3 linked regions of the Homo sapiens genome follow. The protein of the gene in region 2 interacts with the protein of the main gene of each other region in a pairwise test. Each region holds a gene or a part of one and is shown on either strand. Other genes may lie near its edges. The genes, in order: AOAH, DLG2 and DSCAM.

Evidence for each region.
Region 1: the proteins of DLG2 (region 2) and AOAH interact in binary tests that used the Homo sapiens proteins (3 or more experiments, as listed by UniProt).
Region 3: the proteins of DLG2 (region 2) and DSCAM interact in binary tests that used the Homo sapiens proteins (3 or more experiments, as listed by UniProt).

Annotation. Positions count from the first base shown.
Region 1 is NC_000007.14:36,722,835-36,726,587, reverse strand, and holds the start of AOAH (acyloxyacyl hydrolase isoform 1 preproprotein), read left to right. Parts: upstream 1-2,093; 5' UTR 2,094-2,439; coding exon 2,440-2,566; intron 2,567-3,753.
Region 2 is NC_000011.10:83,457,698-83,461,450, forward strand, and holds part of DLG2 (disks large homolog 2), read right to left. Parts: intron 2,228-3,753; coding exon 2,121-2,227; 3' UTR 1-2,120. UniProt on the Homo sapiens protein: Required for perception of chronic pain through NMDA receptor signaling. Regulates surface expression of NMDA receptors in dorsal horn neurons of the spinal cord.
Region 3 is NC_000021.9:40,077,487-40,081,239, forward strand, and holds part of DSCAM (cell adhesion molecule DSCAM isoform CHD2-42 precursor), read right to left. Parts: intron 2,855-3,753; coding exon 2,666-2,854; intron 1,492-2,665; coding exon 1,201-1,491; intron 1-1,200. UniProt on the Homo sapiens protein: Cell adhesion molecule that plays a role in neuronal self-avoidance. Promotes repulsion between specific neuronal processes of either the same cell or the same subtype of cells.

The sequences.
Region 1 (3,753 bases), on a different chromosome or scaffold from region 2:
GGGGCTTGCTCAATACTGCACAGCTAAGTCAGCGACTCCCACTGTGACCAGCCCCGAAGCCTGAGCACACTAGAGAGTTTCAGAGCCGACCATCCCTGGGATGGTTGTGAATGGCACTGCCTGGCCCACATACATGCGATGAAGGGCACAAAACTTGCATTTCCGGCATACCAAGAAATCCCTCTCACTCTAAGAGTTTCCAGACCTGCTCGCAGCTATACATTGAGACCAGGAGAGCCTCAAGAGGCCCAAAGCCTGTGTCAAATGCTCTTCCAGAAGCCCTCAGGAGAGTCCTCACCCATTTATGGATTAGACAAACTAGACCACACACTCCTGGAGTGCTGTAGCACAGCTGGAAGGTATTCAATAAATCCTCCCTTTTCCTGTCCTCACCATTTCCCATGTATGACATGATGGCCTACAACTACCATGGGCGTCTTGGAATTCTCTTGAAGCTGGTCTGGGGTGCAGGTTTCATCACACTCCTGCTAGAGTCATAGACAGATGCACTAAGCACTTACTTCTTGCCAGCCATGCTGCTTTGTTGTTTGGATACATCATGTATTCGAGTGCTTCCAGCAGCGCATTGGAGCGGATATTACCATTATCCCAATAGAAATGAGCTACTTGGGAGGCTGAGGTGGGAAGATCACTTGAACCCAGGAGGTCAACACTGCAGTGAGCTGTGATCACACCACTGCACTCCAGCCTGGATGAAAAAGCAAGGCCCTGTCTCAAAAAACAAACAAACAACAACAACAACAACAAAAACAAGACACTGAAGGGGGGAAAGTTACATCACTGGTCTAATATATTACTCAGAATAAACAGTAGACATGAGACGTAAGCATGAGCCTTTCTGTCTTCACAATCTGAGTTCCTAATCAATCAGTCCTTTATTTAGCCTCCCTTGGAAGTCTCTGGAACTTCTCTAGGCCTCACCCCTGTGGTGGTCCTAGTGACCCCAGAGCTCCCCTTAGTCACAGAGTGAAGAACTGAAGCAGCAGCACCTTAGAGTCAGAGGAAGTCACAGGCCCATGGACGCCTAACGATATCCTCAGTATTGGGCTGGAAGTGTAATTAGGGAAACACTCTGACTTGTGCTATCTCTGCAGCAGGTTTGGGAATTGTAGCCCCATCGGTGCTTGTAAGACTAATGACTGCACAAGAAATCTTCCAACCATAAAAACTGGTATTTCCTACATCCTGGAAAGGATGCTACTCTAAAACTTTGCCTGCTACTCCAAATGCTATTTTTTTTAATTGCTAACAATTTAGATAGCTTCTATAATATTTCAAAATTTGTAATAAGCTCCCTCAGAGCCTAAGCAGAGAGAAACAGAATCTCATGACCTCCTACACTTACCTAGACTGTGGTACTTTGGCCCTGTCCTCTTATCTTGACTGAGAATGGCATATGATTTTGTTTTATCTTATTTTAGAGAGAAACATTTAGATTATATGTCTTTTATCTATGATCTGGTTCCGATTTTTTTTTTCCCTCAGAAAGACAGTGTTCAGTTCTATTCTTCAGAGCAGAAAATCAGTCTCTTAACAAATCATCCACAAAATGCACTTCGAAATTCTGGAGAAAAAAAAGATGCATTGTGCACAGCCTAGCAACTGTGAATTGATTAATTCTAACCCATGTTTTTTCTCATTAGGTCTAAAATCCCACCATGCTAACTGCCCATTATTTTCTGTACTGTTTATTTTCTGCACACCAAATAAAAGGCCTTGACCCTTCAAGGAATAACCCAATTTCTCCAGAGGAAAGATATTATTTGACCAGAATATCCTTTTACAACAAAATAAGGATCACAACCTTACCATATAAAGCTGTTGAAAACAAGACTAAGTAAGTTCTGAATGTAACCAATTAGAATTTCTACAATATGTGGGTGCTGCTGATCAAATTGTTAAAGGGTTGTGTGCTTGTGGATTAGTTTTTTTTTTCTTTTTTCTTCTCAGTTTTGGCTTTAGTATCGTTTTGTTTTGTTTTGCAAGAATGAAAGGGGAAGGGCCTCCTAACCAACCCAACAGATCAGTTCCGGCAAGCCTCGAGGCTCACGGGGTTTATGCACACTAACTTCACTGAGCCAGGGAGCACGGAAGTTGTGCCACTGTGCAACTTGGGTTTTCTTTATCCTGCAGTCTTTACCTCAGCAGAACCGCACACCACAGACTCCCTCCAGCTCTTTGTGTGTGGCTCTCTCAGGGTCCAACAAGAGCAAGCTGTGGGTCTGTGAGTGTTTATGTGTGCTTTTATTCACTTCACACTTATTGAAAAGTGTGTATGTGAGAGGGTGGGGTGTGTGTGTCAAAGAGAGTGAGGAAGAGAAGGAGAGAGAGATCAATTGATTCTGCAGCCTCAGCTCCAGCATCCCTCAGTTGGGAGCTTCCAAAGCCGGGTGATCACTTGGGGTGCATAGCTCGGAGATGCAGTCCCCCTGGAAAATCCTTACGGTGGCGCCTCTATTCTTGCTCCTGTCTCTTCAGTCCTCGGCCTCTCCAGCCAACGATGACCAGTCCAGGCCCAGCCTCTCGAATGGGCACACCTGTGTAGGTATGCAAATAAATATTTTTGTATTTTCTATGTAGACATAACAATGGGATCCAGTACTTTGCTTGCGTAATAAATCACATATTTTATTAAATCAAGAATTGTAAGATTCCAGGTAAGGCACCAGTAACCTCACTGACACAGAGAAATGTGGAGTCTAAGAGTAGACATTGACACTACATACATCTATGTGAATAAAAAGCATACTAGTTTAAATTGGGCATAAAACTCTTCCACCTCATTGGCGATTGGAATTTTTTCTTCTTGTATAGGTAACTATTATTTCAGGCTATTTTAGTCTGAAATTTTTACTGCTTTTCATGGGCTTTGACCTCATATAAACACATCTGAGTTTGAATCACTGCCCTCCTCCTACCCTTCTCTCCCATTTCCTACTGGCTGTGGAAACCTGGAGCAATGTACTTAACCCTCTCCATGCTTCTGTGTCCTTATTGGTGAACTGAAGTGAGTGAGACCCATCTCATAGGGATACCATGGAAATTGTGACCATGCATGTAAATCTGTGGCATGTGCACACAGTAAGGACTCAACCATCTTAGCTTCCTTCCGTCTCTCAGAGAATCCAGATTTGGCGATCACCTGGAGACGCTGAGCGTTGATATGGCTTCTTGGCTCATCTGTTAATGAAGTGTTTTATTTCCAAGAGGTTTTTTTTGTTTGTTTTTTTTGGATGAGAGCAGGAAGTAAGGTAAGATCTTTGATATTCACATTGTAGCTCTCATAACATGGGAATTCTCATAATAGTGGTGGCATTTAGATGGTACAGTCCATGGAGCCACATAGACTCAGAACTCTGAGTAGTAAGTAATTGTTCAATGAGCAGACCTCAAAATACAATCCTAGCTTGAGAAGCCAGGAAAATAACTCTAGGATAAGTCTGATGGCTACATGCTGCAAATGGAAAATCTGGACACAGATTCTGACACTTAGGAATTGTTTCTGGAGACAATATGGAAATATATCTGAATTTGTCCTACTTCCTCAAAATCATGGCCTCAGGTCATTGTACATGTTAGGAGATGCATCTCTACTTCCAAAGTCCTTTTTTTTTTTTTTTTTTTTTTTTTTCTGAGATGGATTATCGCACTGTCACCTGGGCTGGAGTACAATGGTGCAGTCTCAGCTCACTGCAACCTCTGCCTCCCTGGTTCACACAATTCTCCTGCCTC
Region 2 (3,753 bases):
CAGGAATGGCATTCTGGTGTCAGAAAACTTCTGGGAGCAATATTGATGAAAGTAGGCCTTGACCTGAAACTGGCGAATTGCAGACATGGACATATCTTTAACATTTTGAGCAATCTAAGGAAGTCTCTGGAAATTTAACTTTCATGAGAGGGAGAATGCATTGCTAGCCCTTCCATTGGCAAAGGAAGCCTCAGGACTATGGGAAGATGCATAATTTTGCATTTCTGTTTTGTTTTGGTGACTGTAGCCAGGCAGACAATGATGTTTAGCGTAAGATGAACAATGCCTGTTTTTGGAAAGAGACTCTCATTCTAAGCTCCGATGTTCTTACTGTGAAGAAGCCCCATCACTCTGATGGCTCTATCTCTTGCTCTCCTACCCAGCCTACATGCTGGTTTGCTGCACAGTGTGGCAGAATCCCTGCCAGGTCTGGATGTACCCCAGAAATAAGGCGATGGGGCTTAGTCTGGGCATGCACAGAACCCAGAGTAGAGTGGTTATTATCACTGAAAAGTCTCTCCCCAAACACCATGGGCAAAAGCAATGCTGATGTCGCCATCCACTCTAAAGTGGGAAACCAACTCTTCTAGTTCAGTTTATAGGCTTTGGGAGGTTTCTTTTTTTAAATCATCGTTATTATAATTGTTAAAAAATAAACTTGGTCCAGGTGCAGCTCCAAGAAAGGCAGTTCAGTTGGTTGAGCTCAAAGTCATTAATTGTCTTTCCTTGTGACTCTATCTCTTTGCTCTGTACATAGAAACAAAAAAGTCTGCACCCCCTCACCCCCAACCAGACACTTCTCTTCTCTCTCTTCCTCAAAGAAATAGTGCATCTAGGAACAGATCTCTCATTGGCTCTAGTACCATCTCTGGATGTTACAAAACTCTCAGTTACTCTGTAAAACAAAAAGGTACTAATCCTAATTACTCATTGTTGGCCAAAATGCTAAATGGTCCTTTAAGAATTGTATGTCAGTAACTAGGAACAAAGTTATTCAACTATTTGCATGGCAGGCTCAGGTTATTTAACTAGAGGAAAGCAAAAACTTCCCTTTAGATCATTTGCATAAGTTTGTCTCTGAAAAGCCATCAGCATAAAAAAATGCATTAACCAAATGTCTTCCAAAAATATCCATGAGGGCAACTCATTAAGGGATGTGCTGCATGAGAGTGTATCACTAATGTGGAAGGGAGGTAAGTGAGGAAGAAGTCTTTGTCAGACTTAAAAGGAACTCAGATGCTCTTAACAGATCATTGGCAACAAAAGGGAGAGTGCAACTTTCAGGTCTTGAATTTGATCATCTGCTGATGTTGCATACATTTAGTCTTTCAATATTAGTCTTTACAAAATATTTCACAAAACTTTTTTAACCTATAGAAATTTGTTTCTATACATTTAATATATTTTTATTGTATAAATTATTCTCATCTTTAGTGCCTTCTTTCAGTTTATAAATGGCAAAATAGGCAATCAACAATCATAAAGCTAATCCCAGGTGGAATCCCCTCCTGTCAGTGAGGTTAGTCCTCCATACACTTGCAAATTTTATGAAATTCTTGTCTTTGCAGATGCCAGTCAAAAAACTACACACTTATCCTTCCCTGATAGTATGTCATCTCCAAAGGGATTCCTTTCTTTTTTCCTTCTTTCTTTCATTTGCTTGTTAAGAAATCAAAAGATGTGCATAGTTATAAAATTCAAAGTGTACCAATTACAGATGTGGGTAATGGGAAGGCTGATGAGGTTCGAGTGCTGGCAATTTTTCTTTAAAGCAAAAGACACAGAGAGCTCTGCAGCTAAATCAGCTCTGGACATCTGCTGGGGTGAGGAGGCTCTCATCTCATCTCTTGGGCAGAAAGCCCGTCAGAGGTTCATCCCTACACCTGGCACTTTGAGCAAACCAAAGCCTTCCTTCATACTGCAATGTCTTTTCTGTCCCACCCTTTGGCCCCTCTGTTTCCTTCATGGCTTCATACAGTTTGTGTTGTACATTCGTAAGAATTCACATTGACTGCAAAAACATAAATGCAACAAAAACATAAAAGCCTCCAAGTAGTATGTTATATATATTTTGTTCTTCTAAATGCTCTTCTGTCGTTGTCAGAGGCGCAGTAGCTAATTTATAACTTTTCCTTTGAGGGAATCCAGATGAAAGGCCCAGATTGCTCTTCAATAACAAGCTTGCATTGGTTATATATATCTTCTAAAGTATCTCCTTGGACAATAGCTGTAACAAAAGCAAACACACCCAGAATTAGAAATAATTTCCTGGATGGTGAAGAACAATCATCACTTACACATTGGAGGCTCAAATCAGTAGCAGATGACTCATCAGGAAGCTTCATATCATTTTTCATTAGTAAGAAGAAGCAGAAAATTCATATAAGCAAAGTTACATTCATGATTTTAAGAAATGCTTTCAATGGATATCCTGGATCAGTAACAAATGATTCACAGTCTTTGCACTTTCTACATGTCTGTCTGTAGTACTGGACAATTTATCACTCATCTATTTAACCAATATTTTATGGGTGCCTACTCTGAGCCAGGCACTGAGCTGGGCAATGATCAATTTTCAGACTGAGAGCTCCCTATTTAGAAAAGAAAACTGGCCTTACAGTCTGTATATTTACTTATTTTGGCAGCAGCAGAAATTCAGATATTGTAGACACCGAGGAAATAATGAAGATTTTAGAGGGAAGTTTAGTTAGCCTCCCAACCCTCAAAGCCCTTAATAGGAAAACCCATTAATTCCCCAAATCTCTGGTAACTTGAGATTTTTACCATACAGAGCTATTCATATTGAGAATACCATAAGTCCACTATTTATAAGAAACATAAACAGGAAGAAATATAAACAAACTGCTCAGTTGTGTATCTCCTAAAACACTAAGTCACTTGGAGTAGATTTAAGTACATTTTATTGTCTCATTTGAACAAAAGTTATCTTGTAGAAAGATTTCCAAAACACATCAGTATTATCCATATGACACTAGGTCTTAAAAATAAATTACTACTGAAAGATGATTTAGATATTTAAAAACAATCCTCAGAATATATTATTGTATTGTATACAAAATATAAACCACTGTCAAAATGTACACTTTTGTTTCTCCTACCTGGATGTTCTTTTAGGATGAAACACAGCTCGTATCTTGGTTACTGACAGAAAGATTACTTAATATTACCTGATTCAAGATATTTACAAACTGCTAAGGCACTGACACTTTCTATATTCTGAATAAGGTAAAAAATAAAACATCTAACTTCACATATGGTAATCCAGGAAGAAAGTTCTTGGGTTTTTTTTTTTTTTTTTTTTTTTTTTGAGACAGAATTTCACCCTTGTTGCCCAGGCTGGAGTGCAGTAGCACGATCTCGGCTCACTGCGACCTCCACCTCCTGGGTTCAAGTGATTCTCCTGTCTCAGCCTCCCTAGTAGCTGGGATTACAGGTGCCTGCCACCACACCCAGCTAATTTTTTGTATTTTTAGTAGAGACGGGGGTTTCACTATGTTGGCCAGGCTGGTCTCGAACTCCTGACCTCAGGTGATCCACCCACCTCAGCCTCCCAAAGTGCTGGGATTAGAGGCATAAGCCCAGCTCGAAAGTTCTTGTTTTTAAACCTCCGGGAACCAGGTGTAAGGCAAATTTCACAAAGTCTGATTACTCAGTGTTCTATGAAAGTATATAGGAATACAGAACTCAGAACTCAGGCTCTCCAGAAGAAAACCTCTATTCCCCTTCATGTTT
Region 3 (3,753 bases), on a different chromosome or scaffold from region 2:
GCCACTCTTCTTAGGATGGCATAAACTGTGCTCCAAGGAGCTACCTGCTGGAGCTTTAATAAAGCGGCCTCCCAAATGCACAAAGTAAAGAAAGAATCACTCTCCTAGAGAGCAATGCTGATGCTTTTCATGGGCTGCCTCTGTCTAATTTTACAGCCCTCAGTTATGAGTGACTTCATTGAAAGGCATCCCCTCACAAAGCATCACCCACAGGTAGAGGAGCACTTCCAACGTGGTCTTGGCTTGGCTGTCAATAAAGGGTTTGGGTGTTTCTTGGTTAACTCATTCAACACTGTGGTCTAGCCTGACCAACAGGCAGTGAATAGAAGGCTCTGAGGAGAGTTGCACTGGAGTTCCAACTCATCCTGATGCATTGCTGCCGTTTTTACCTTGCAATTAGAGCACCTAACTCAATCCTTGCTGTTCCCCTAGTGAGAAATGAGCATCAGCCCGCTGCTGCTGGGACTTTCTAAAGTTCCCCTACTAAGTTGCAGTCGAGGACTCGCTCCTTTCAGCTTCACTGGGCTTAGCATTTGTTCAGTTAGCAATAAATGGCCCTTGATACCAGAAAAAATGAGTGAGATTTTAAACCATTTATTTTTGGTTAACTAATGTCAAGAGACACCTCACCTAGTTTTTGGAAAGTAAATGCAAGTGGCAAGTGTGTGTGAGTTTGTGTGTGTGCACGTGTTCATGGATTCCTATTATTATCCTATTTCCATCAGTGGCCCTGCTCCTGCCCAGAGACTAACATAAGCTCCTTTACCATGGAAAATTGTTTTTGCACATGCAGTTTAGGGTGTAATGAGTGCAAAAAAGAAAGTTGTTATGTGGATTGGGATGAGGTGGGGAAAGGGGTGGGAGACAACAAAAGCAATGTTAGCTCATAGACATCAACACAAGCACAGAACCACAGGGTCAAGAGTCCTTCAGCCCTAAGAGAAATCACTCCTGCCCCATGACTCCCCAGTGAGACTCCCTATGGCCCTGAGTCTCTTATTTCTGGACACACAGTGATGGTCATCTGGATATAACGAACTAGGGAGCCCCAGACAGAGTCCATTGAATCCCGAAAGCCTAATGGGCTCCGTGGGCACTGGTCAAACTATGGCAAAGATGATGTTCGATGGGAAAGGGGCAGGGCCCACGTGCACATCCCCCAAGACACAAGCAGGAGAGCCACAAAGCCAGCCAGCTTACTGCCATCGTAGTTCAGCGTAGCGAAGTTGGCCTGCTTCTCCGCGCAGCCCGCACTGTTGCACACCCGCATCTGCAGCTCATACCAGGTGGCTTCCTGCAGGTCATACAGGATGTAGGACTTGGAGAGAGAGGTCCTCTGAGCTGTGGTCCAAACTGTGGTCCCAAAGGGCCTGTACTCTAGTGTGAAGGAGGTGATGGGGCAGCCGCCATCATTCCAGCCAATGAGGTTCAGCCTCACGCGTGTGGTGTTGATGCTGGCAAACAGCTCCTGCTCCTTTGAGAACTGGGGCTCTGGGGGAGAAGGCACATGGAGGTCAGCTCACAGGACACATGGGGAGGCCATCAGCATCTTCACGCATTTCCCTCGGACTGCTTCCTCCAGCGAGGCCAGGAGCTCAGTCCAAGTCTGGCTCACAGGCCACTGGCAACTTGTCCCCTGTTAATAGAGACTTTATGGACCAACAGGCTTTCTCCAACTGTAATGACCTGGGTGTGTGACAGAAAATTGCATGGGTGGAGGTTATTTTGGGGTATCTTAGAGTTCCCTAAAGAACAATAGGATGTTCACATATGGGTTTCCTTCTGTGGTTTGCGGGGCAGTGTGCTGGGCACTTTTTCCATCCTCATGTGATGAACCTGATTCAAGAGAAGACAGAGTTGGATTTGGGAAGCACCAACAGATTTTCCTCCACAACTAAACACTTGGTCTTGGTGCCCAGGGACCTAAAGGATATATTTCTGCATAAATCAATCCCCGATCATTTGACCTCTTACCACTTGTTACCCAAAACTGTGGCACCAGGCACAAATAATACCCTTGCTATCTCATTACTCGCTCTCCTGCCATCTGACCCCACCCCACCTGGTAGGACTCCTATGGGAGGGAAGCCTGCAAAGACATCTCCTCACCTTCTTCCTATGCCCACATAGAGCTGCATCATCCCTCCTTCCTTCTGGAGTTCCTGGGACAAAACCTCTTTCTCTGAATATGATTTCTTTGGGATTCATCTCCTTGAAAGTCCACATTTTAGATTAAAAAAAAAACAAACGCAATTTACCCCATCATTTTCCCTCTGAAAAGCGGTGGCTATGTGGCAATGTGGAAATGATAGGAAGGTGGGAGCAAGGGTGGCTAAGGGAGAAGGGCGCCTCCAAACGGCTGAGAGGGCAAGCGCCACGCTTCATGGCTGCCCAGCCTTGGCACCTCACATTCACACCAACGCCCTTGATTTTCAAACTGACATTCTTCTTTTTAACTGCAAATGAAACAATAAAAGAGAGGACCAGAACACTCTGGAAGGTCCAGCTGTCCCTCTCATTATGCCGTGGCACTGCTGAAGCCATGTGAGGAATGACAAAGTTCAAACACATAAACGTAAAACATGATGGATCTTTTATGATTCCAATCTCCTCTTCTGGCCGGGAAAAGAAAGGATATTAAGAAGCGATGAGAAGGCATACCTACCTTTTCCTAAGGTCTTTGCTTCTATGATTTCACTTATGCGCCCTGGGCCCACTCCATTTTGGGCTGTCAGTGTGAACTTATACCAAGTCCCACATTTGAGATTTTCCAAGCGATAGGAACGTTCGCTGGGGCTGATTGGAAAACTCCCCCACTGCTCACTATTGTCCTCGGAGTACTGCAGTATGTATCCTGCAGAGAATGAGAAAGATTCACATGAGCACTGTGTTTGCTTTCTATGGGAAGTGGACTGATGCTTGCATTTTGTGTGGGTAATAGAACGAGCATTCTCAGAACTGAAGAATCTTCAGAAGGAACATTTTCGCTCTTTCTGATTCCAGGAAATGTAACCCAGCCTGGGAGAAGCACCATGATGTATTGATTAGTGAGTCATTTGGGCCACACCAGACATTATCACTGTGAAGTATTGCTGTTTTCTGCTCATTCTCTTCTAAAAGCCATATTGAGCAGCAGGGAATACTTAAGTTGCCAAATATCTGTCCCTCAGATCATACATGCCTGAATCCTTGAGTGAAGACATAGGCTGAAGCTGTTATTTTTGCAAGACACTCGAATCTCTGGGAAAGGGATACATTATCAATGGGAGTAGAGATTTCTTCAACTGCCTCACTCCTCATGTACTCCTGGTCTCACAGTTCACAGACACTAGGAGAAACAGCTCCAAGTCTTGCAGCCATCCCACTATTCTGACAGTAACCTGGCTTCTCTTTGGTTTGAAAAATTCCTCCAACAATTCATTCCCCCACATGAGCACTACCTCTACTTTTACAACTAGTAAGGATGACTGTCCACTCTAGAGCACTCACTCCATGCCAAGCCCTGTCCTAAGCCCTTTGCTTACAGTATTTCTGCAACCCTATGGAACAGTGACGACTCTCCCACAGAACACGTGGGACACTGAAGTCCAGAGCAGTTAAGCGGTGAGTCCCAAGTGCTGAAAGGAGGATGCAGATCCTGCAGTCAGCCTGAAGCCCATGTTCTTCACCCCTGTGAATGCTGAAATATTCTTCCTGTTAACTCCTTCAGCCCTGTTATCTGCAGCCATGTTCCTTCTCCACCCTGGCTAGCTG